Linked DNA regions of Homo sapiens. The protein of the gene in region 1 purifies or fractionates together with the protein of each later gene. This does not show direct contact. Each region holds a gene or a part of one and is shown in the gene's direction. Other genes may lie near its edges.

Region 1 (5,825 bases):
CTAGGGTTACTGGATCAAATAATATTGCTATATATTGCCAAATTTCCTTGTTAACTGTTATATCACTTTGTCTTCCCACCAGCTATGTATGAGAATGCTAGCCTTAGGTGTATTTTGATACCATATCAGATTGAGGAGGCTGCAGAGATGAATCACAGACAAGGTTCCTGCCCCTAGGAATTCTCAGTCCTCCAGGAGGCCTAAAGGCTAAAAAAAATGACATAATAAGCAGGAGGCAGATTTACCCTGAAACTAATGAATCTTAAGCTTCAGAGTCCTTTACTTATAGGGACCCTTTCCAGTGTTCCAGATATGTGTTCACAGGGCCATTTTATAACATTTTTCCTCAGGAGGACACCCCAAATTATTTAAGTTTCAGGTCCCACAAGATCTAAACCCCCCTCACAGACTTAACAGTGAGCCTAAACTGGGGGCGAGAGTGGATTTCAAATCTCATCTGCAGCTGACTTAAGAGCAAGGGTTCCTATGATATTTAATGACTGAGACAAAATGAAAACGCTACTTTGATCGAGAGAGAGGTCCCTCCCCTGATTGGGATCAATAACCCACACAGGTAGTTAGCTGTCTACGCAGAGCCTTCTATATTTTCCCTCTACTTTTGAGGGCGGGAAATAAGTCTTGGCTGACACCAGTGTTTCCAGCAAACAGCTGAAGACTTGACACTTGGATGGCACTCAGGACAAAAATCTGAACAGATTACAGAACCGTTGTTGTTTTTTTTTTTTAAGGGGAGGGTGTGTTACACCAGGAATGGGTATTCAAGGTAGACACATCCCAAAACAGACACTTCAGTGAGAAGAGGCAGAGGTGTTTCCTCACCTGTAAAAACAGGATAATAAAACCTACTCTTGTGGGGTTTGGTTAGGATTAAGCAAGATCATTTATATAAAGACCTAACCCAGTGCCAGACTCTCGGGAGAAGGGGCATAAAGGACAGAAAATAAAATGAGTTGATCTTTGAGCACAGCGACAGGGATTTTTTGTACATCGTGCCTTACAGAGCGAGCGCTGGGAGGAGGAATCATCACCCTGCTGAGAAGTAATGGGTGCAGAATAAATCGAGTAAGAAGGAATGGACTTTTCTGGCGGATGCTTACTGATCTAACAACTGGATGACTGAGGAATGCGGTCCTAAGTGACCCCGGGCTGGCTGTGGGGCCAACAGCGTGCGGGATCTGACTAACAGCGTGTGGCAGCCGAGCGACTGCAGCAGCGGCGGGGACCCCATTGACTGTCCAGCCCCGAGAGCGGCAGGAGCGCGGTGGATCCTGGCTCGGACCAAGGCCTCTCCCCTGCGCCGACTGCAGACCAACCCTCCACCAGGAGCCTCGCGGGGGGGCGCCGTGGGCACCGCAGCCAGGTGCAGGCGCCTCCGCGCCCTCACTCCCCACGCCGAGGAGGTGGCCCTGGCTCCCTGCGGCCGCAGCCGGGGAACAATGAGGCGCCGGCCTCTTTAAGGGAGATACCACCGCGCCGGCGGGGCAGGGGACGGCATCCTCCCAGATGATCGCACCCAGCCCCGCGCCGCCGCCGCCGCCGCCGTCTCCGCAACTGCACCGCCCGCAAACATGGCTCAGTGACTCGGAGAAAAGCTGCAGTCTCCCTCCCGGCGGGGCGGACGCCAGGCCTCCTTGGTCGGGCCGCACCTCCCCGCAGGCCCGCCAAAGAGCACCGCGCCCCGCAGGCACCCGAGACCCGCGCGGAAGATGCACCGGGCGTTCCACCCCAGCGAGCCCCGCACCCCAGCCCGCAGCTCGGTAGGTCGGAAGGGGGCGGGTAGAGGGAGGGGAGGCCGCGGCCGGGCGCGCGCAGCCCCAGGCCCGGACCTGCCGCTGCAGACGGTCCCCGGGGCCGCGGGCCCTGAGCGCCCGCTGCGGCTGGAGGGTGGCCGAGCCCCGGCGTGGCGTGGCCTCGCGGTTCCCGAGCCCGGCCACCCCTGCGGGGAGCAGCACCAGTGGTGCGCTCCGGAGCGCGCACACCTCCGACGACTCCCGGCTCTGCAAATCCTCGAGAGAGGGAGGAGGCGAGCGGAGCGCCGGCCGCGCGCCTCGTCGGTGGCGCGGAACGTCCCGGCTCGCGCTACGGAAAGCCGGAGGGGGGCGGGGCCGTCGGCGTAAGGGGGTGTGTCCGCGCGCACCACGGGGGCGCGCGCCGGCTGCTGACTGGAGGCGGCGGCAGCGGAGGCGCGAGCTGCCCGATAATGGCGGCCTGCAGAGCCCATGAGAGGGAGAAGCGGCAGCGTCTACCCTGAGGTAAATCTGGCCTTTCGGCGTGGCGGAGAGGTCTTGCTGCAGAGCCGATGGCCCTGCATGTGCCTCCCTCCCTGGGAGGCTTGTCACAGACGTGTCAGCGGAGTCATCCTGGGGAAGGCCCTGCGCTCCTCAGGCCACCGACCCCAGTCGCGGCCTCCTCTCATACCGGGGCCACCTCCCCCCGGCCCTCAGCCCCCAGCCCCGAGGAGTTGAGGCAACTGCAGGGCTGGCTCCTCAGAGCGAAGGGGCTCAGGAGGCTCCCCTCCGGGCTTCATCTGAGCACGGCCGAGGAGGGGGAGGGCCTGACACTTGGCCAATGAGCGCGGCCTGAGCCGCCGCGTCGGGCAACACCTCTGGCCGCGACTGGCCCTTCCCGGGCGCCGGCAGGTGTCTGGCCTGGCCGGCTCGCGTCCCAGCGCCTGGTTAGAGCAGCGGGAGCGAGGGCCCGCCACTTTCGGTCGAAAGTCACTTAGGTTCGCATCGGATGCATCATTGGATCCGGGATCCCACGGGTTTCATAAACACCTCTCTCCTCCCTATTCAGGAAGGTGCTCTTCCCCATGGGGACTGTACCAGGCTGGAGAGGACATGGCACTGCTTCAGAGACACGAACCACCTTGAGTGGATGTGATTGGCGATCCCCGTAGAGCAGGAAAGCTCGTCTGCTGTGCAGCCGGCGCAGAGGATTCTGTGGCAGGAAATTAGACACTAGGAAATTCAGTAGCGATTTGAAGGGTGGGTGTCCAGTTAGAGGAAGTGGGACTGAACACAATCTCAGAAGTCATTTCTTTTTATTAAATCTATCCTGTAGACTTAAAGCAGTGGATCCCAACTTCTCAGGCTCTAGGGTCAGTAGCCTTTTGCTTCCCCAGCTGTACAGAATAAATATTGTACAATCTCAGGTTACTTTTCTAGCCCGTGGTCACAATCTACAAATGAGAATTCGTTCATGAAGTTGGTTATAATCTAGAAATTCTTTGGGCGCTGAGGAAGCCCACTTTAGACTTTCTCCATTCAACACATGAGCATTTCTGTGCAGGGCCTTTGCCCTCGCCTTTAAACCGTTCAGTAAGTTGAATTCCCAAGAACTCTGTCAGAGAGCCCCTTGATATGCAGGATCTTTGTTGGCAAAAATGACCTAGAACTAAATAGATATTGTTTACTCCAGCTGTCTTATGACTAGGAAAAAGGAAACATAAAAATTTTAAAATAGCTATTGTTAAATGACTACAAAAAGGTAACTGTATTCTAAGTATCCAAGTAGCTTACTTTATTTTTAAGTAAATGTTTCTGGCCGGGCGCGGTGGCTCACGCCCGTAATCCCAGCACTTTGGGAGGCCGAGGCGGGCGGATCACGAGGTCAGGTGATCGAGACCATCCTGGCTAACACAGTGAAACCCCGTCTCTACTAAAAAATACAAAAAAAAATAGCCGGGTGTGGTGGCAGGCGCCTATAGTCCCAGCTACTCGGGAGGCTGAGGCAGGAGAATGGCGTGAACCTGGGAGGCGGAGCTTGCAGTGAGCCGAGATCAAGTCATTGCACTCCAGCCTGGGAGACAGAGCGAGAGAGCGAGACTCCGTCTAAAAAAAAAAAAAAAAAAAAAGAAACGTTTCTTTTCCACAAACTTTATTTTCATTATTGTGTAAGAAATAAGGAGATGACATAAGAGACAAAATTAAAATATGAATAGATAGAGTTTGGCCACTTACTTTTACATAATGAAAACAAACATTTTCAGTTCTATAAATGATTTGGTTCACTTTCAGGCCTTAAGCATAAGCCAGGTGTTTGTATTTCTAACTGTGAGGGGGTTTTGTTTTTGCTGTTTTATGACCATTATGTGTGTGTCAGCCTGAAGGAGAAGCTGGGATTTTGCTTGCTTGCTTGTTTTTTCCTGATCAGTAAATAAGAATGCTGAATTTTGGGGGTGTATTTTTAACAGTGACATTTTCAAGCAGTTCATATAAGAGACAGCATACTGTAGTGCTTCAGATCGTGGTCGTCTGAGGCAGATGGCCGGGTTTCAAATCCCAGGTCCACCAGTTACTAGCTGTTGACCTTAGGCGTTTCATTTAACCTCTCCATTATATAGTTTCATCTATAAAAAGACCATAATAGTATCTATCTCATCAGATTATTATGAGGATTAACTGAATTTAATATTCTAAAGAGCTTAAAACAGTTCCTGATACATGGTAAATACTACCTGTTAGCTTTATTGTTACTATTCTTAAAATTAGATTTCCCCTAGGTATAGCAAATATCCTTCAAGCACTGCAGACAGTCAGACAGATGACAAGTAAATCATACATAAGAAGAAATACAAGCCAGTAGGTATACATAATTTCAACAGAGCACTTTGTTGATTTTTCCAGAAACCTCGACCTTGAAGATGGTGAGTAGCCAGCCAAAGTACGATCTAATACGGGAGGTAGGCCGAGGTAGTTACGGTGTTGTGTATGAAGCAGTCATCAGAAAGACCTCTGCACGGGTGGCAGTGAAGAAAATTCGATGTCACGCACCTGAAAATGTTGAACTAGCCCTTCGTGAGTTCTGGGCACTAAGCAGTATCAAGAGCCAACATCCAAATGTGATTCACTTGGAGGAATGCATCCTACAAAAGGATGGGATGGTGCAAAAGATGTCCCACGGCTCTAATTCTTCCCTTTATTTACAGGTATGTGTTGTTGATTGGGAAATAGAAATGATTTGAACATGGCATTGGCCAGCAAGAAGAGGAATGAAAGGGTCAGACGAACGTTTCCCTTTAAATGCAGGTGTTTGTAGTTAGAAGTAGATAAGTGTCTGCCAAGAATTGAGTAGATGTTTGCTTTAAAACAAGGTTTTATTTAAACCTGTGAGGCACATACCTAAAAATAACATAAGCCACCTGTTATGCAATGGTACTTGCCAGTCTGCATAGGAATGGGGCAAGATAGGAACTAGAGAGGTGCTTGAGACTACAGTCTAATAACTTCATTTCTTTGAAATCAATAATTTTGGACTTGAGGACAGAAGAAAAGGAAAAATTCCACAACCAGTAGCAACACCCCTAGGTAATTGGGCATCTCTTTTATAAATCACTGGTTTGAATGTAAGCCTCTGCTGTTTTAGAGGGATATCTGGTTTCTTCACCACGCAGTTCCAGTTAATTTTCATGAAGTACATGATTTAACACCTGAATGTTATTAACAGTGCTAACAGCTAACATTTGAATTTGCATGCAGTTCGATGCTCTGTGCTGAGTGCTTTAAAAGCAGTTGCTCAAAACAATCCTGTGAGGAAAGGACTATTATTATCTTCATTACAAATGAAGAAACTGAGGCTTATAGTATAGATAATGAATTCATCCAAAATCACATACATAGTAAGTGGTACAATTGGGAGCTGGAGCTGAGAATGACAGCTGAAGCTTATGCTTTCTTAACTCCCAGATTACTCTTCTGTAAACCTGGGAAAATGGAAAAGCTTTTCTGTTTTTCTTTTGTTGGCTTCTGCCAGAAATTAAAATCTCTAGTAGCTCTATACTCAAAGAATAGAAAATATATTAA
Region 2 (5,884 bases), about 130 Mb from region 1:
CCTAAGTTCAAATTCAGGTCTAACTTCCTAGCTATGTGACCTTAGGTAGTTTACTTAAGTTTACTTACTTACTCTCTGTGCCTTGGTTTCTTCATCTATAAATTGGGTTAATAATACCTACCAAATATTCATCTTCTAGATACAGCCTCTGGCTTGTTACTTCCCTAACTTACCCTCAGTTCCCAAACCTTTCTGGAAGTTCTAAGCCCCATCAGAAAAAGCTTCAAACACCACCACAGAAGAAGGTCTAATCGGCTCTCCCTCTTGTTCTCCAACTTCACCCTCTCATACTGGCCTTCTTCTAACTCTGATCAGGCAGAAGCAACCTCAGCCCCCTCTTGCTCCCAAAGGTTGAAGCCCCTACTCTGCTTTTCCCTGGCTGGTATGCCTACCCCACCTTCACCCCAGGACTGGAGCCAACCTGTCCCCATGTAGACAGATCTCTCCAAACACAAAGCCTGCATCCTGCCCTCCTGCAGTCTGGAACTCCCCAGTGCTCTGTGCCCTGAGGGGAAGTGCTGGAGGCTGTGCTGTTGCTACAGGGCTGCCCTCAATACACCAGTCTCTTCAACCAAGGCCCTTACCATGCCTTCCTATCCTGTTGTTCCCTTTCCTGTCTGTTGCATGCTGATCTATAAGTGAGGATGGTAAAGATGGCTTTCCCTTCCAGAGTCACTCAGGAAGCTACACAGTATATATTATCTGCAAAGTGCCACTCAAGAGCACTCTTTGGGACTTGGCTTCTGAGCTCAGAAAACTTCCTCCTCAGGAATGGTTCTTCATGCATTGAGGATAAGTGTGATGTTCATAAGGTGCCAAAACTCAATGAGAGAAGAATAAATGGCAGCATGGTGCAACAGAGAGAACACAGGCCTGGAGTCTGAGGGGCTCTAGTCCAGCACCGTCTCCGCTTCACAGAGTGGCTACTTCTCTGAGGATTTCTCAGTGTTCTCATTTATGAATTGGGCTTAGCCATACCACCTCAGAGGATTGCTAGGGAGATCAAATAAGATGAGATGGTAATGAAAATGGAATAAAATCAAATGAAATGAAATGGCAATACCATTATCATTAACCTCTTGGGGACTTACCCCTGGGATGGCCAGGCTATAGACTTCATGAGAGTTGAAACTGCTGCCATCGTATTCAACACTGTATTCCTAGGGCCTTAGCCCTCTGCCTGAAATGGAGCAAGCTTTCCATAAATATTTGCTGATTAGCCACCAGTTGAGTTTCCTGTCCTTGCAATGAGGAGTTACCACATGATCATGGTAAGCCTTTTTTCTCATCAGCTACAAAATGCTACCTACCCATAGCATGGGGTGGGGAAGGTATTAACTTTTTTTGTTTTAATTAAAAATGAGACCAACTTTAAAGAGATGAAACTGGCTTTCTTGTGTCTCATACACTAGGTGTGAAAGGCACTTACAAAACAAGAATTCAAAAAATGTTCTAAGTAATAACAGTTCTAAGTAACATCACCACAAAAACATGTGTGCCCTCTCAGAGTGGCTACTTTGTAAAAGTTAACCTCAATAGATATATTCTTGAACATTTATATTAAAAAAGGAAACAGTGGCCAGGCACGGTGGCTCACACCTATAATCCCAGCACTTTGGGAGGCAGAGGCAGGTGAATCATGAGGTCAGGAGTTCAAGATCAGCCTGTTCAACATGGTGAAACCCTGTCTCTACTAAAAATACAAAAATTAACTGGGCATGGTGGCAGGCACCTGTAATCCCAGCTACTCAGGAGTCTGAGGCAGGGAATTGCTTGAACCCAGGAGGCGGAGGTTGCAGTGAGCCAAGATCGCACCACTGCACTCCAGCCTGGGCGACAGAGCAGGACTCCATCTCAAAAAAAAAAAAAAAAAAAAAAGGAAAGAGTCCCATAACTTTGTAGGCTCATAGAGACAAAGAATGTTCACCAGGACCCCAGCCTGTACCAAGCACTGCTGAGCCCATCACAATGGAAAGAAGCTTCCCTGTCAAGAGGACTCAGCTACAGAAGGTACCAAATGTGGTAGGAGGGGCCTGTTAATTAGACCAAGGCAGTCACACATCAGCAGGTAAAACAGAGACAAGAGGAGGTGTGGCTGGGCTGGGCTGGATCTTGGATGAATCAAGCCTTCCCATAGGGCAGGATATCCTGTCTAAAACAAGAGCCTTGGTTAAAACCCCTATAAAAGGTTCTCATCACACTGACCTGGTACTCCTCACACCACTTAACAGCCACTTGTTTCATCCCACCTGGGCATTAGGTAAGTCCCCTCATAAGAAACCTCTTTCTCATTCTCAGTGTCTTGGTGATCTGAGCTCATAAAACTGGGGCAGTCAGGTATGGACTATGCATCCTTCAGAGCTAGCTGTGAGCACTGGGCAAACCAACGCTACCGTTGGGAAACATGCTCTCCTGAAGCAATCAGGCTTTCTCCTCCTCCCTGAGGCTGGCCTGGGAGCAGCTCCTCTCACTGGGAAACTGTGTGGGCAGCGGCTATGGGGCCACCCATGTGCCTTCCTGGATCAGCAAAGGTTTCTTTTTTCTAAGGCTCTGGAAGCTTCTTTGCAGTGCTGAGAGTCTATGGGATCAGAATCAGTTTACTTATGCCAACCTAGACAATAAGATCAAACTGTGTCATGGATGAAGGGGTTTACATGATTCCCCTCTCCTACACCAGGGTGATATTTAGGCAAAATATGTGTAGATTTTTCTAAGGAATCTAAAATGTAACTAAAAGGTCATCTTATTATTTTATTATCTAAAGGTCAGTGGTTAAAGTCTGCTACATGGTTTTAAAAAAAAAGAAAGATATTTTTCATCTATGTTGAGGAAAACATCCCCAGTTTTTTACCTTGATGAAAAGTTTGCCTGAAATTGTTGGTTACCAGGTCCTAGAAAGGGTTTCTCCTGAACAGCCCACCTTTTGCTATGACTTACTGAGTCCTCATGGCCACACTAATCTGCTTTTTCTAGAACTCAAGTCTCCTTCCTTCCTTTTTTCTCTTTCTTCTCCTACCTATATCTGCCTCGTCCCATCCTCTCTCTGGCTTTCCAGCTGCTACAGGCTCCATCTCCCCTTGCATTTGAGACTTGTCATCTTTGATACCATCTCCTCCTTTGGGTCTCTCCAAGGCTTCTGCTTAATGAATCTTCAAGTCTCTTTTCCTTTTGCTCATGCAACCAAACCCAGGCCTCACCTCAACCTACCTCTAGATTTCTGGCTAATGAAAAAGAAAAGCTTTCCCTTTGATTAGGAACCAACTCATAGGTCACCAGAAATCTGGGCCTGATGGAGCCACGTGCCTGTTGGGCAAGCTGACTTCTCTGATAAGTCTCAGGGCTGTGGACAGAGGCGACATGCAGAGAAACTTGGACCCTCAGAACTGGAAGGCCTCCCACCCAAAGAAGGTTCCCCCCTCCTGAGCATTCCCAGCAGGTGGTAGCCCAGTTTCTTCCCACTTTCCCAAAAAAAACAAGAAGGGAGGGCTGTGTCCCTGGAATTTCTGCTTGGCTCCCATCCAAGACAGGGGTTGACTCACAGATGTATTTACTTCCTTTTGGTGTTCCCGATGGGACCCTAACACCCTTGTGATAAATAAATAAATCCTGTCCACAGGGTACATTCTAGAAAGCCCATTGCATTTGGGTTAAGGAAAAATGGATCCTAGGATTTCTTGGCTCCTTAAAAATTGTGTGGCCTAACTTCTCTGAGCCTGTTTCCTCACCTATAAAAAAAAGTGGAAATAATAAGGATTAGAAGAGATGATGTACAGGAAAGTGATTATATAGGTGTACAAAAATTATATGTGTGTATATGTATATAATAGCATAATAATTATATTTAATAAGGAGCACTTAATATAAGCCAGGCATCTGCCAAGTGCTTTTTATGAATTATGTCTTTAAATCTTCACAATAATCCCACAGAGTACTAATATCACCTTCAATTACAATGAGTAGTAAACTGAGGCATGGAGAGGCAAAGCAACTTGTCCCAGCTCACACCATACTTAAGTGGTGGGGCCAGCATTTAATCCTGACTCAGGAACCTGCCTCCATCCTGTGTGCTCCTCCTTCCCATACATAAGATGCATTATGTAGGAAAGGACAAAGGAAAACTAAAAACAGAGCTGAACGTGCAAGGAAAGACCTAGCAGCAGACGTGCTATAAAGGAAATAGCTGAGGTTGATTATGGAGCCTCCAAGGGAACTTTTCATCTTTTCCAGGTTGACTTCAAAGATGCCTCAGTTACTGCAAAACATTAATGGGATCATCGAGGCCTTCAGGCGCTATGCAAGGACGGAGGGCAACTGCACAGCGCTCACCCGAGGGGAGCTGAAAAGACTCTTGGAGCAAGAGTTTGCCGATGTGATTGTGGTACGGTGTGCTGAGCCGGGTGGAGAGGGGACATAGCAGGAGAGTGAAACCTGGTTTGCCTGCAGAGGCCTTGCCTGGGGAATTTGAGGAGGCAGCAGCTAAACCCAGGCCTGCCGGGACAGATGGCAGCTGTGCAGGCAGAAAAAAAGGTGAAAGAACCAGAGATGGTCATGGGAGTTGGCAAGTCCTGGCTCTTTAGATTAAAACCTTGGTTTTAATTAATTCTAACTTAAAGACAAGGTAAAAGGGCTCTAAAAGGACAACTCAGACAGGAGCAGAGCCTTGGAATATTTCAAAATGAAAATAATTGCTGCTTTCTGCCGCCTCTTAAATTTGATACAGTAAATATTTCCCACGTCTATCTGAAATGTAATCATCCATTCATAGACATTCATTAGAAGCATAGCTCTGGGCTTGCACGAAGCAGTTACTCAAAAATATTAGCAGACTGATCACATCAGAAATGAAATTTTGAAGAGCAGGTTGTTAATAGCTAGGGGGAGACTTTGGAGCCTCACCCCACCCCACCTGGCAAACCAGAACCAAGGCCTTGATGCACTTTCCTGTCTTTGGTTTGCATCTAAAGCAACCAGGATGATGATGGCCTTAGGGACAAGGACATATGGGCACAGAAGGATGCTGCATCCACATGCTCAGGGCAGCGCTGCAGGGGCCCACTGCTTCCCTCCCTCTTTATCATGGGGAAACATCTGGGCCTCAATGAGGAGCGCACAGAATTCCCATGGGGCTGTGTTCCCAACCTGCTGCTCTTTGTGCTGGGCCTGCTGAAGAGACTAAGGCCTCAGTGCCAGGGGCAAGGTGCCAAGGGCAGCCCAGACAGTCAACTTGAGAGCCCAAACAGTTGCATTGTGAATTCAATAATTTATTAACTCTTCAATAAATCTTTATCTAATTTTCCTGTAGCCCAGAAATTGTGCCAAATAGAGGCTACCAAACAAAAAATGCTCTCTACACTTGAGGGAGAGAGACGGGACTAAAAAAAAATAAAGGCAATTAAGTCTTGCTGCTGCTCTAGCCGTATGTGTGTGTAGTGTGGGGTCTGAGGCAGGGGAAGCTGGCAGCAGATTGGAAGGGACCTGCCCATGTCCTCCTCAGGGGAGGGATGCTGACTCCACCTCATCTTCTCCTCAGAAACCCCACGATCCAGCAACTGTGGATGAGGTCCTGCGTCTGCTGGATGAAGACCACACAGGGACTGTGGAATTCAAGGAATTCCTGGTCTTAGTGTTTAAAGTTGCCCAGGCCTGTTTCAAGACACTGAGCGAGAGTGCTGAGGGAGCCTGCGGCTCTCAAGAGTCTGGAAGCCTCCACTCTGGGGCCTCGCAGGAGCTGGGCGAAGGACAGAGAAGTGGCACTGAAGTGGGAAGGGCGGGGAAAGGGCAGCATTATGAGGGGAGCAGCCACAGACAGAGCCAGCAGGGTTCCAGAGGGCAGAACAGGCCTGGGGTTCAGACCCAGGGTCAGGCCACTGGCTCTGCGTGGGTC
Region 3 (5,184 bases), on another chromosome or scaffold:
CCTGCCTCAGCCTCCTGAGTAGCTGGGATTACAGGTACACACCACCACGCCCAGCTAATTTTTGTATTTTTGGTAGAGACGAGGTTTTGCCATGTTGGCCAGGGCCAGGCTGGTCTTAAACTCCTGATCTTAGGTGATCCGCCTGCCTCGACCTCCCAAAGTGCTGGGATTACAGGTGTGAGCCACCATGCCCAGCCTAGGAATGTCCAAATTCTGATAATGTTTTATAAGATTAAAAATATAGGCCAGGCCAGGAGGTCAGGCGTTGGAGACCAGCCTGGCCAACATGGCAAAACCCCATCTCTACTAAAAAAAAAAAAAAAAAAAAAAAAAATTAGCCAGTCATGGCAGTGCATGCCCTTAGTCCCAACTACTCAAGAGGCTGAGGCAAGCAAATTACTTGAACCTGGGAGGTGGAGGTTGGAATGAGCTGAGATTGCACCACTACACTCCAGCCTGGGCAACACAGTGAAACTCCATCTCAATAAAAAAAAAAGTATATATATATACCAGGCATGATGTCTCACACCTGTAATGTCAACACCTCAACACTTTGGGAAGCCAAGGCAGGAGGGTTGCTTGAGCCCAGGAGTTAGAGACCAGCCTGGGCAACATAGTAAGACCCCATTTCTACAAAAAATATAAAGTTCTCCAGGTGTGGTAGCTTGTATCTGTGATCCCAGCACTTTGGAAGGGTGAAGCAAGAGAATCACTTGAGCCCAGGAGTTCAGTGCTGCAGTGAGCCACCATACTCCAGCCTGGGGGACAGAGCAAGACCCAGTCTCAAATACACACACACACACACACACACACACACACACACACACACACACACACACACACACATATACGTATATATATACACACACACTTTTTTTTTTAAAGAAAGAGCTTGGGATATATATTTCTATACTTTTTTTAAGAAAAAGATTGGAAGAGACATATATATACACACAGACACATACATACATTTTAAAGAGATTGACGTATGTTTTTAACCTTTTTTTAAAAAAGAAATGGGATATATATATATATACTTTTTTTTCTTTTTTTTTTTTTTTAAAAGAGATTGTTTCTTGCTCTGTCACCGAGGCTGAAGTGTGGTGGCTAACTGCAGCCTCGACACAAACTCCTGGGCTCAAGCAATCCTCTTGTCTCAGCCTCCCAAAGTGCTGGGATCCCAGGCCCAAGCCACCATGCCTGGCTTAAAAATGTAGTACATTTGAATTGTATCCTTTTGAAATTGTTCGTTTTTTGGAAAGAAGAATAAGAGATGAAGAAAAATCAGACTGGAAGAGGGTTGTTTTTTCCCTTTTGTAGTTGCAAATCCTAAGTGGGCAGTGGTAAATTTCTAGAATCATTTGTAGCATTCTGTTTTAAACTTGGCAATTTAAAGATGTTATAAATGAGGAGTCCCCAGAAAATGGTCATTTCATTATCAAAAGCAGGGTTGCAAATTTCAGATTGATCTTTTCAAAAGTTAGATTTGTACTTGTTCTCAGTGTTCCTATCTCTGGAAACTAAAGAACCTCCTCCATTGTTAGCTGAAAATTGCACAGTGAATTTGAAAGTCAAGATGTCCCAGTCATGGACATAATGCTGCGATAGGTTACTTTTTGGAATGGAGAAAACATCTTAGAGATTGAGTCTGCATCAGAATATATTCTGAATGAGCATGGAATGTTCTTTACCCATGTTAGATATTAATTAATTAAGTTTTTCCATGTTTAACTTTTTTAAAAAAGCAAGACAATAAAAACAGTCTTGTAATCTGAACACATATTTTGGGTTTTGTTGCTAGCATAAAAATTATTACCTAGTGGATGGTAACACTGTTTTGAAATTCTAGCTTGGAGGAGATGTTTGTTACAAGAGAAAAGGTGTTTCATTGAAACCTAACAGGGTAATTTACATGGAGAGATACTTGTTTCTCTTTTGAGTTATTGTTAGGTTAAGACATAAACTTAGAAAAATTGAGATGCTCATCTTTCCCATCTTAGATTTACTTTCACTATGAACTTTATAAATTCTTTTTTTTGAGACAGTCTCACTCTATCGCCCAGACTGGAGTGCAGTGGCGTGATCAGAATTATTCAAGCTTATGTATGTGTGTGTATTACACATATATTACACATATGTATAAATATCAAATATCTTTTTTACATTATATATAATGGTATATATGGTTGCTATATGTTTTATGTGTGTATAGCAGTATCTATCTATACTGCCTTATTTCCCAGGCATATTTATATGCGAAACTTTTTTTCTGTGAAATCTTATTGTACCAAGAGGAATAAGTATATATGCCCACAAAAAGACTGGGTCATAGCAGCTTTTTTCACAGTAGGAATAAACTACTGATTCACATAGCAACATAGATGAATCTCAGAAATACTGTTCATAGCAAGAGAAGCCAGGCACAGATGAGTATGTATAAGTGTTTATGATGCCATTTATGAAAAATACAAGAACAGGCAAAACTAAGGTATGGTGATAGAAATCAGGACAGTGGTTGCCTCTGGGTAGGGGTTGTGGTTGACTGGAAAGGAGCACAAGGAAACTTTCTGGCATGATGGAAATATTCTGTAGCTTGACTTGGGTGATGGTAATTCAGTTATATACTTTTTGGGTAACTTCGTTTTCATGTAATTTTTAACTTACAGAAAAGTTGCAAGACTAGTACAAAGAGCTTCCGTATACCTTTATCCAGTTTTGCCAATTGTTATATACATTTACTCAAACATATTGATTCAAACTTAAGATTTTATAGTATGTAAATTTTACTTTAATAAAGGAAAGAAAGCTAAAAAAAGTGTTGAAAATGAGGATGATCTTGTTATCTAAAAAACATGAAATACCTCAGTTAGGAATTAACCAGTGGTTTAATAATGATGAGAAAAAGAATCGTTGGCTGTCTTTTGTCTTCATGTATATGTATTTATACTGCTTTTCACTAAAGACTCATGACATGTTTCTGTTAGAAGAAACAGGATCCTCAAAACGATTCAAGGTAGAACTGCCTACAAGGCAAACCTGCTTTATTTTGTTATCCTACACATGTCACCTAGGGAATGTGACTGAAACCTAGCAATAGCTTTCTGGGAATTGGAAGTTGTGACTGTTTCTGTTAAAAGAGTTGTATACCTACAATGTGCTAGCTGTTGCAAAGACATGAACAGTTTTTACTATCCTAGAACTTAGCCAAAGAAGAGGAGGCATACAAATCTGGTTGTTGTTTTTGGGTGGTGCTATTTTTCATAGGCAGGAAAGACATTGGTGTTTGTAAACTAAACTATTCTTGATCATTGGTAAGTGGTAAATCTGTCACTGTCTACTAGATTTAATGTTTCCACAGCCTCAATAGTGTGATTTGATTTAGATTAAATCAATTTAAATCATAGCTTAAACAATAATGGCTAAAAAAATTCAACTTTCCAATTCTACTACTTATTTTATGTAATTTTTAGTATGTGTTCATTACAATTTAGTATTAGGCATAATTAATGGATATTGGTTCTTTTTGTTTTTTCTTTTGAAACAGGGTCTAATTCTGTTGCCCAGTCTGGAGTGCAGTAGTGCGATCATAGCTCACTGCAGCCTGGAACTCCTGGGCTCAAATGATTCTCCTGCCTCAGTTTCCTGAGTGGCTGGGACTATAGGCGTGCACCACCATGTCTGGCTAATTAAAGAAAAATTGTAGAGACAGAGTCTTGCTGTGTTGCTCAGGCTGGTCTTGAACTCCTGGCCTCAAGTGATCCTCCCACCTTGGCCTCCCAAAGTGTTAGGACTGCAGGTATAAGCCACTGTGCCTGGCCTGGTTCATTTTTTTAAATCTTTTTTTTTTTTCCATCTACATCAGAAAGTTGTTTTATTTGGTCATATAGTCGAGTAGAAGATGTTTGAAGTAACTGGAGGGCTAACCAGATGCTTCAACAAATTAATCATTGATATTCAACATAAACATTTATTTTGCCTTTACTCATGAAAATAATAAAGTTATATGACCTATATATTTTTATTTATAAGTTTTTAAATTTAATATATTTTTATTTCAATAGCTTTGGAGTACAAGTGGTTTTTGGTTACATGGATGAATTATATCATGGTGAATTCTGAGATTTTAGTGCATCTGTTACCTGAGTAATACACATTTTACCCAATATGTAGTTTTTTATTCCTTTCCCCTGCCCTCTTCTGAGTCTCTAGAATCCATTATATCACTCTGTATGCCTTTGTGTACTCATAGTTTATCTCCCACTTATAGGTGAGAACATGCAGTATTTGGTTTTCCATTCCTGAGTTAGTTCACTTAGAATAATGTATCCAGCTTTATCAAAGTTGTTGTAAAAGACATTATTTCATTCCTTTTTTATGGCTGAGTAGTATTCCGTTGTGTGTGTATGCCATGTTTTCTTTACTCATTTAACTTATATATTTTTCAACAAAAACATAATTCTTTGAAGAATGACAGATGTCTGATATCAATCAACATGGATAAAAGGACTAACTTCTTCCATGTAATAAACATGTTCATATTTCTCTGAAATGACAGAATAGGCCTTTTCCCCTTTTATGGTCCATTTCACTATGGTGTTTAATTGATCAGTCGAGAATGAAGAAAACATTCTTTGAAAAGTATCTGCCAGAATTTTGTTTAGAATGGTCAGCCTTAACTGAAGATAGGATTTAAAAAGTATACCTGTAAGTAGACCTTTTTAGACTTTTTATTATGAAAGTTGCATACATACACAGAATCGTAGAGAATTGTCTAATGAAGTTCCATATACCTCCTCTCCAGATTCTTTAATGAACCTCCATGTACCCATTCCCCAGATTCATTAATTACTGACATTTTGGTTATTTGTATTTCATATATTTTTTTGAGACAGGGTCCTACTTGTTGCTCAGGTTGAAATGCAGTGGTGAAATCACAGCATGCTGCAGCCTTGACCTCCTAAGTACAAACAGTCCTCCCACCTCAGCCTCCACAGTAGCTGGGATTACAGGTATGCATCACCATGACCAGCTAATTTTTAAGTTTTTTTGTAGAGCCACAGTCTCACTATGTTGCTCAAGCTGGTCTTAAAATCCTGGGCTCAAGCTGTCTTCTTGCCTTGGCCTCCCAGAGTGTTAGGATTACAGGCATGAGCCACTGTGTCCAGCCATGTGCTTTTTTAAACT
Region 4 (5,184 bases), on another chromosome or scaffold:
TTATCTGCATATAACCTACACACATCCTCTCATATACTTTAAGTCATCTCTAGATTATTTACAATACCTAATACGGTATAAATTCTTATCCTGTGTTGTGTAAAATTTGTATTATTTTTTGCTGTACTCTTATGTCTTACTTTTTTTCCACATGTATTCGATCAGCAGTTGGTTGAATCTATAGATGTGGAATCCATGGATGAGGAGGGCCAACCATATTTTCCTCTGTATGACACTGGTATACTTTATATACAAGAATAATAGAAATTAAGTTCGGTGGTTGTCTGAACAGTTAAGAGTTTGAACTAGATAATTTCTATGTTCAAACACTGATTCAGCAGGTCTTTAGCCGTACCTGCTATGTGCCAGACCCTGGTCTAGGTGCTAGGAATGTGAGAAGCCTTTGGAGGGGACGCAGAGCCGTCATAGATCTACTCGGGAAGTTGTGAAAGACTTCTTAGAGAAAGTAGCATTAGAGCCAGGCCTTGGAGAGGGTAGGATCTCTGTTGGCAAACCTGATTTTTTTACATGAGAAGTAACCTGATCTTACATCTATTTTAGAAAGACAACTTGAGGGTGGAGTGGGGTGGGGTAGAGAGTTAAAAAAGTAACAAGAGCCTGAACTAGGTCGGTGGAGACAGAATGGATAAAGAACAGGATAGTCTTGTGAAGGAAGACTCAGTGCTAGGAAGTGTTGGAGGAAAGGAGCTCAGGTCTCAGTGACCAGAGACCAGGGTGCTGCTCTCTGAGAGAAGCTAAAGTGAGAGGAGACCTCGGCACAGGGCCTCACCAACGAATGTGTTTCTGTTGTTGCTGTGGTGGTTAGGGGGAACTCAAGAGGACAGGCCGATTTCTGGGGGGATTGAGGGAAAAACACATTTGATCCTTTGCCTTTTCCAGTCTCTTTATATTTACTGGTTAAATGTAATAAGTTTATTGGGAACTACTTGTATGTTCAAAGATTGTGCCTTCCACTTTCCAGGAGCTCACAGGATTTTTTGTTCGCTGAAACTTTTGTAAATTACTTAGTCTTCTTGATTCTGCTTAAAGAAAAAAAAAAAAAGGTTGTTTCTTCAGAAATATAGTTCTGGAGTAATCAGTTGAGGATTTTTCCTCTGACAGCCCCTATGTCCGAATTTTCCTAAGGAAATCCAGACTGATTACAAAGGAAGAATACTTAGCAGCCTGATTGTCAGGCCCTGTGTCCTCGGGGCAGGGGTTAGCGCCAGATCCGTTAGAGGTGTCAGGCGGCTGGTGCCGAGCATAAAGCACACACACGGTCACTGGTGCACTTTTTCTCTTTTTTCAGATATACGCCAGCGGTTAGGAAAAAGACCACATTCTCCGGAAAAGGCTTTTAGTAGTAACCCCGTCGTTCGGAGAGAGCCCTCTTCTGATGTGCATAGTAGGCTAGGTGTTCCCAGGCAGGATAGTAAAGGCCTCTACGCCGATACTCGGGAGAAGAAATCAGGTTGGTAACACTTAAAACGGATGGGAATGGGGATTCAGTGAGAGCAGAGGACAGTGGGTGTATTGGAGAAATACTTTCTTAGCAGAAGGCAAGAAACAGCCCACGCCAAATATAAGTGATTATTCCTTTTCCATTATAGTTATCGTCAGCATCAGCATCAGCATCATCCCAACAGTTAGGAACGCTTAGAAAATAGAAAAAAATAGCACACTCCTGGCTCTTTCTGTTTGGCACAAATCTTTTTAGTTTCATGTGAGCTATTCTGGTCTTTGCCCACATACAAATCCTAGTTTTTTCATACAGCATTTTATCGTAGTTGTTTGCCACATTTTATAATCTTTATAAATAAAACTTTTAGGCCAGGCATAGCGGCTCAACACCTGTAATCCCAGCAATTTGGGAGGCCGAGACGGGGGGATCACTTGAGGTCAGGAGTTCGAGACCAGCCTAACCAACATGGTGAAACCCTGTCTCTACTAAAAACACAAAAATGAGCCGGGCGTGGTGGTGGGCGCCTGCACCACTGCACTTCAGCCTGGGCAACAGCAAGACCTTGTCTCAAAAACAAAAACAAAAACAACTTTGAATTGCCTTATAATGTGGCCGTCTACAAAATTCTAAACACGTATTTCTCTATTGTTAAATTTTCATAAAATATATTTCAAAAATTAATGGAAGGGATCTGGGAGTGGCCTACTTCTGGCAGAATGGATTGGCACACAGGGTGGTGTCTCAGCAGGGAAGGGCAGGAGTAGGAGGAAACGGCCTCTCAGGTGATTCTGATGTGTCTGGTGACAGGGAGGGACCTGACCTGTCCCCCCACGGTGAGAATCCCGTGCTGGGTCCAGACCCTTCCGTTTGCGGGCAGGGGCTGCGGCCCGGGAAATGAGATTTTGCCTGCCCAAGGCTGCACTGTGGTGGCAGGCTCCACAGACTGCTGGCGTTTCCTGCACAGCAGGTGTTGGCAGTGCTGCTGCCCCCTCAGTGCTACCCTGGTTCTTAGCGCTGACTGCGAAAGTGAAATGCCATCTCATCCAAACAGGTAATTTATGGACTCGCCTAGGATCTGCACCCAAGACCAAAGAAAAGAATACGAAGAAAGTGGATCACAGGGCGCCTGGCGCTGAGGAAGACGACTCTGAGCTGCAAAGGGCATGGGGGGCTCTGATTAAGGAGAAAGAGCAGTCTCGCCAAAAGAAGAGCCGGTTAGATAACTTACCATCTCTCCAGATTGAAGTTAGTCGGGAAAGCAGCTCTGGTTCAGAGGCAGAGTCCTGATGCCCCTGGGGCCTATGGCAGCTGCCCTAAAGCCTGACATTCTTGCACAGGGTGGGGCGCGCAGTAGGAACCTCCCCCGCAGGAGCTGGCGCCCTCTCGCTCCTGCTCACACAGTCACCCTCCGCTCTTGCTACTTCGGCAAGACATCTTAAGAATGTGACACATTTTCAAGGGCATCTCTATCTTTCGCTGCAGAGTTGTAGTTCTGGGCCCTCGATTCCTTTCCCACCACCCCACAGGCTTTACCCTTTGAGAAAAAGGCAGCCCTCCAGATTTTGTAGACATTTTTCTTAATATTTTTAACATTGTGTCTTTTAAAAGAAATGTTTTACACAGTTCATCCAAAGAGCAGAGAACTGAACTTCTCACTATTGCCTTGGCCCTGACAGCTGTTACCAGCACCCTTTTCCCAAGAAAAGTCAATTCCCAGGTGCTTATTGGACATCCTTCGAGGGGGAAGAGGAGGGAAGCGGCCAGCTCACCCTTCCGGGACCCTAGTGTGGGGCGAATCTCACGGACCTGACCTCAGAGGTGCACCAGTGCCGCCCAGGTAGATAAGAGCTGCAGCATTGACTGTGCTTCCGTTCTTCCCTCGGGGATTGCTCATGGCATGGGCCTCTTACGTGCTGTCAGCTTGATGTGAAGATCAAGTTCAGTGCTGTGGGATTTTTAGGAACAAAAAACTGTGACGTCTGGATTTGGGGTTGATTTTTGTGCTGGGGTGGGATTATGGGTCAATGTTGAAGAATTTTTAAGTCTGTATTATGTTTAAAACATGAATGATTTGAAAGTTTAAATTTTTAATTTTTATATGTGGAAATTCTTCCTGTTGGCTAAAGGGGAAGCTCAAGTGGTGTCGTCTTTTGTGCTGTTAAATATATATTCTATTCTTTGGAAGAAGGCAGAGAGAGGAGTCTTATTATTTTTAAATGCTCCTAGTTGTATAGTCTGTCTGTTGTACATAGAGTTCAGCTTGTTTTTTGGCTCCAGTAGGAAAAAAAATCCATCCATCTGAGATGGGGTCCTGTTGTTTATTATCACTCTAGAAGTTATACATTGATATTTATTCTTTCTGTCCCCACGTTGTGGCACCTGAAGACATCTTCAAAATTGGCAGAAAAGATAATAGTTATAAAAATTTTAGTTCATTTATTTTTAAACTCCTTTCAGATTATTTTACCATTAGGAGGAGGTAGATTGTTTCGTCTTCCTGTCTGATTTTTGTTTTGTAGTATTTAATTTTGTATTCCTCTGCAGTTTTAAGAAACAGTGTTTTTCTTCGGTTTGCTGGAACATGGGCGTTAGAGATGGTAATAAACCGTGGTCCTTTTTGCGATGTCACGACTCTTCACCTGCCTGGGCTGTTGTGCACACAGTGCAGCCTGGATCCTGTCGATCTTTACTTGTGGCGGAGCTAATGGTCACATTGATAGTTGATTACACTGTGGCACGAATTAATGCAGAACACTGTTATTAATAAAGGAAGTAAAGGGCTGCAAGATTTGAGAGCTGCAACAAAAACTGTATTGTCCCATATTTTGTTGATTAACCTTGCTTTTTCTCCCTCCCTTTAGAGAGATTAGAGGATATAACCATGATATATTTCAGCTTCTTATTAGGATTCTAGGAAAGAGATGGTTCTGGTTTCTCTGCCAGTTGAGACTTAAGACATCTGAGATTTCTCAGCTTTTCTTTCCCTGTGAAGCATACAGCTGAGAGCCAGGTTCTTAGGAAGGGTCAGGGTTTGGGGAGTTGGTAGAGTGAGGAGTGCGGGGGCCTGAGAATCGGACACCTGGATGCCAACCCCTGGCTCTGCTCCATGGACCTGGGCCTCAGTTTTCCCGTCTAGCAGTTGAGTGGGCTGTTACCAGAATTCCTGGCTTTGTTGGTGCATCTCAGTGGCGGTTTACTCTTCCCAAGCTGTGACGGCAGTGGGCTCGCCAGCATGAATTTCTACTGCAGGTGGAGGAGGCGCCAGGGAGACAACTGAGGGCGCGCATGAGGTGTAGACAGGGGCTTATTCCCATCCCAGCACAGTCTCTGCTTCTACTGACGGGGCAAAGATGTCTTGTGGTCAGCGTCCCAGCTGGCATGCCTCTGCAGGGTTTAGAATATGCTCCTTCACAGACTTTCCTTTTGGTTTTACACCAGCAGCTCAGGTCCATTTGTTCCACGGCCTTTCAGCACTCAGCAGTCTCCTGCTACAGATCAGCGAAGCCATTCTGGAAGGAGGTGGTGTGCAGTCAAAACTGGGTCTTTGATGTAACCAAGAGAAATACACACTCGAGTAACCTTACAGTTTTCACAGACACACAGAGAGAACCCAGAAAGGCAGCTTTAAAGATTTTTACTTCTCGGAGTTACTGGCCTTATTAGTTTCTCTAACCCTCCTGCCCACTCTCAGTCACTCAGATCTTGCAACATCTTGAGTGTGT

Evidence for each region.
Region 2: the proteins of PDIK1L (region 1) and CRNN purify together in Homo sapiens (affinity purification with mass spectrometry; one large-scale study listed by BioGRID and IntAct). This does not show direct contact.
Region 3: the proteins of PDIK1L (region 1) and FKBP5 purify together in Homo sapiens (co-immunoprecipitation; 3 studies listed by BioGRID and IntAct, with this or other methods). This does not show direct contact.
Region 4: the proteins of PDIK1L (region 1) and NCBP3 purify together in Homo sapiens (affinity purification with mass spectrometry; one large-scale study listed by BioGRID and IntAct). This does not show direct contact.

Annotation. Positions count from the first base shown.
Region 1 is NC_000001.11:26,109,643-26,115,467, forward strand, and holds the start of PDIK1L (serine/threonine-protein kinase PDIK1L), read left to right. Parts: upstream 1-2,181; 5' UTR 2,182-2,273; intron 2,274-2,817; exon of another isoform or gene 2,818-3,008; intron 3,009-4,649; 5' UTR 4,650-4,666; coding exon 4,667-4,951; intron 4,952-5,825.
Region 2 is NC_000001.11:152,410,590-152,416,473, reverse strand, and holds the start of CRNN (cornulin), read left to right. Parts: upstream 1-2,210; 5' UTR 2,211-2,260; intron 2,261-4,227; 5' UTR 4,228-4,240; coding exon 4,241-4,378; intron 4,379-5,530; coding exon 5,531-5,884. UniProt on the Homo sapiens protein: Promotes cell proliferation, G1/S cell cycle progression and induces expression of the cell cycle regulator CCND1. Regulates proliferation induced by pro-inflammatory cytokine response via activation of NFKB1 and PI3K/AKT signaling pathways.
Region 3 is NC_000006.12:35,678,783-35,683,966, reverse strand, and holds part of FKBP5 (peptidyl-prolyl cis-trans isomerase FKBP5), read left to right. Parts: intron 1-5,184. UniProt on the Homo sapiens protein: Immunophilin protein with PPIase and co-chaperone activities. Component of unligated steroid receptors heterocomplexes through interaction with heat-shock protein 90 (HSP90).
Region 4 is NC_000017.11:3,810,609-3,815,792, reverse strand, and holds part of NCBP3 (nuclear cap-binding protein subunit 3), read left to right. Parts: intron 1-1,309; coding exon 1,310-1,471; intron 1,472-2,513; coding exon 2,514-2,749; 3' UTR 2,750-3,138; coding exon of another isoform or gene 3,139-3,247; 3' UTR 3,248-5,184. UniProt on the Homo sapiens protein: Associates with NCBP1/CBP80 to form an alternative cap-binding complex (CBC) which plays a key role in mRNA export. NCBP3 serves as adapter protein linking the capped RNAs (m7GpppG-capped RNA) to NCBP1/CBP80.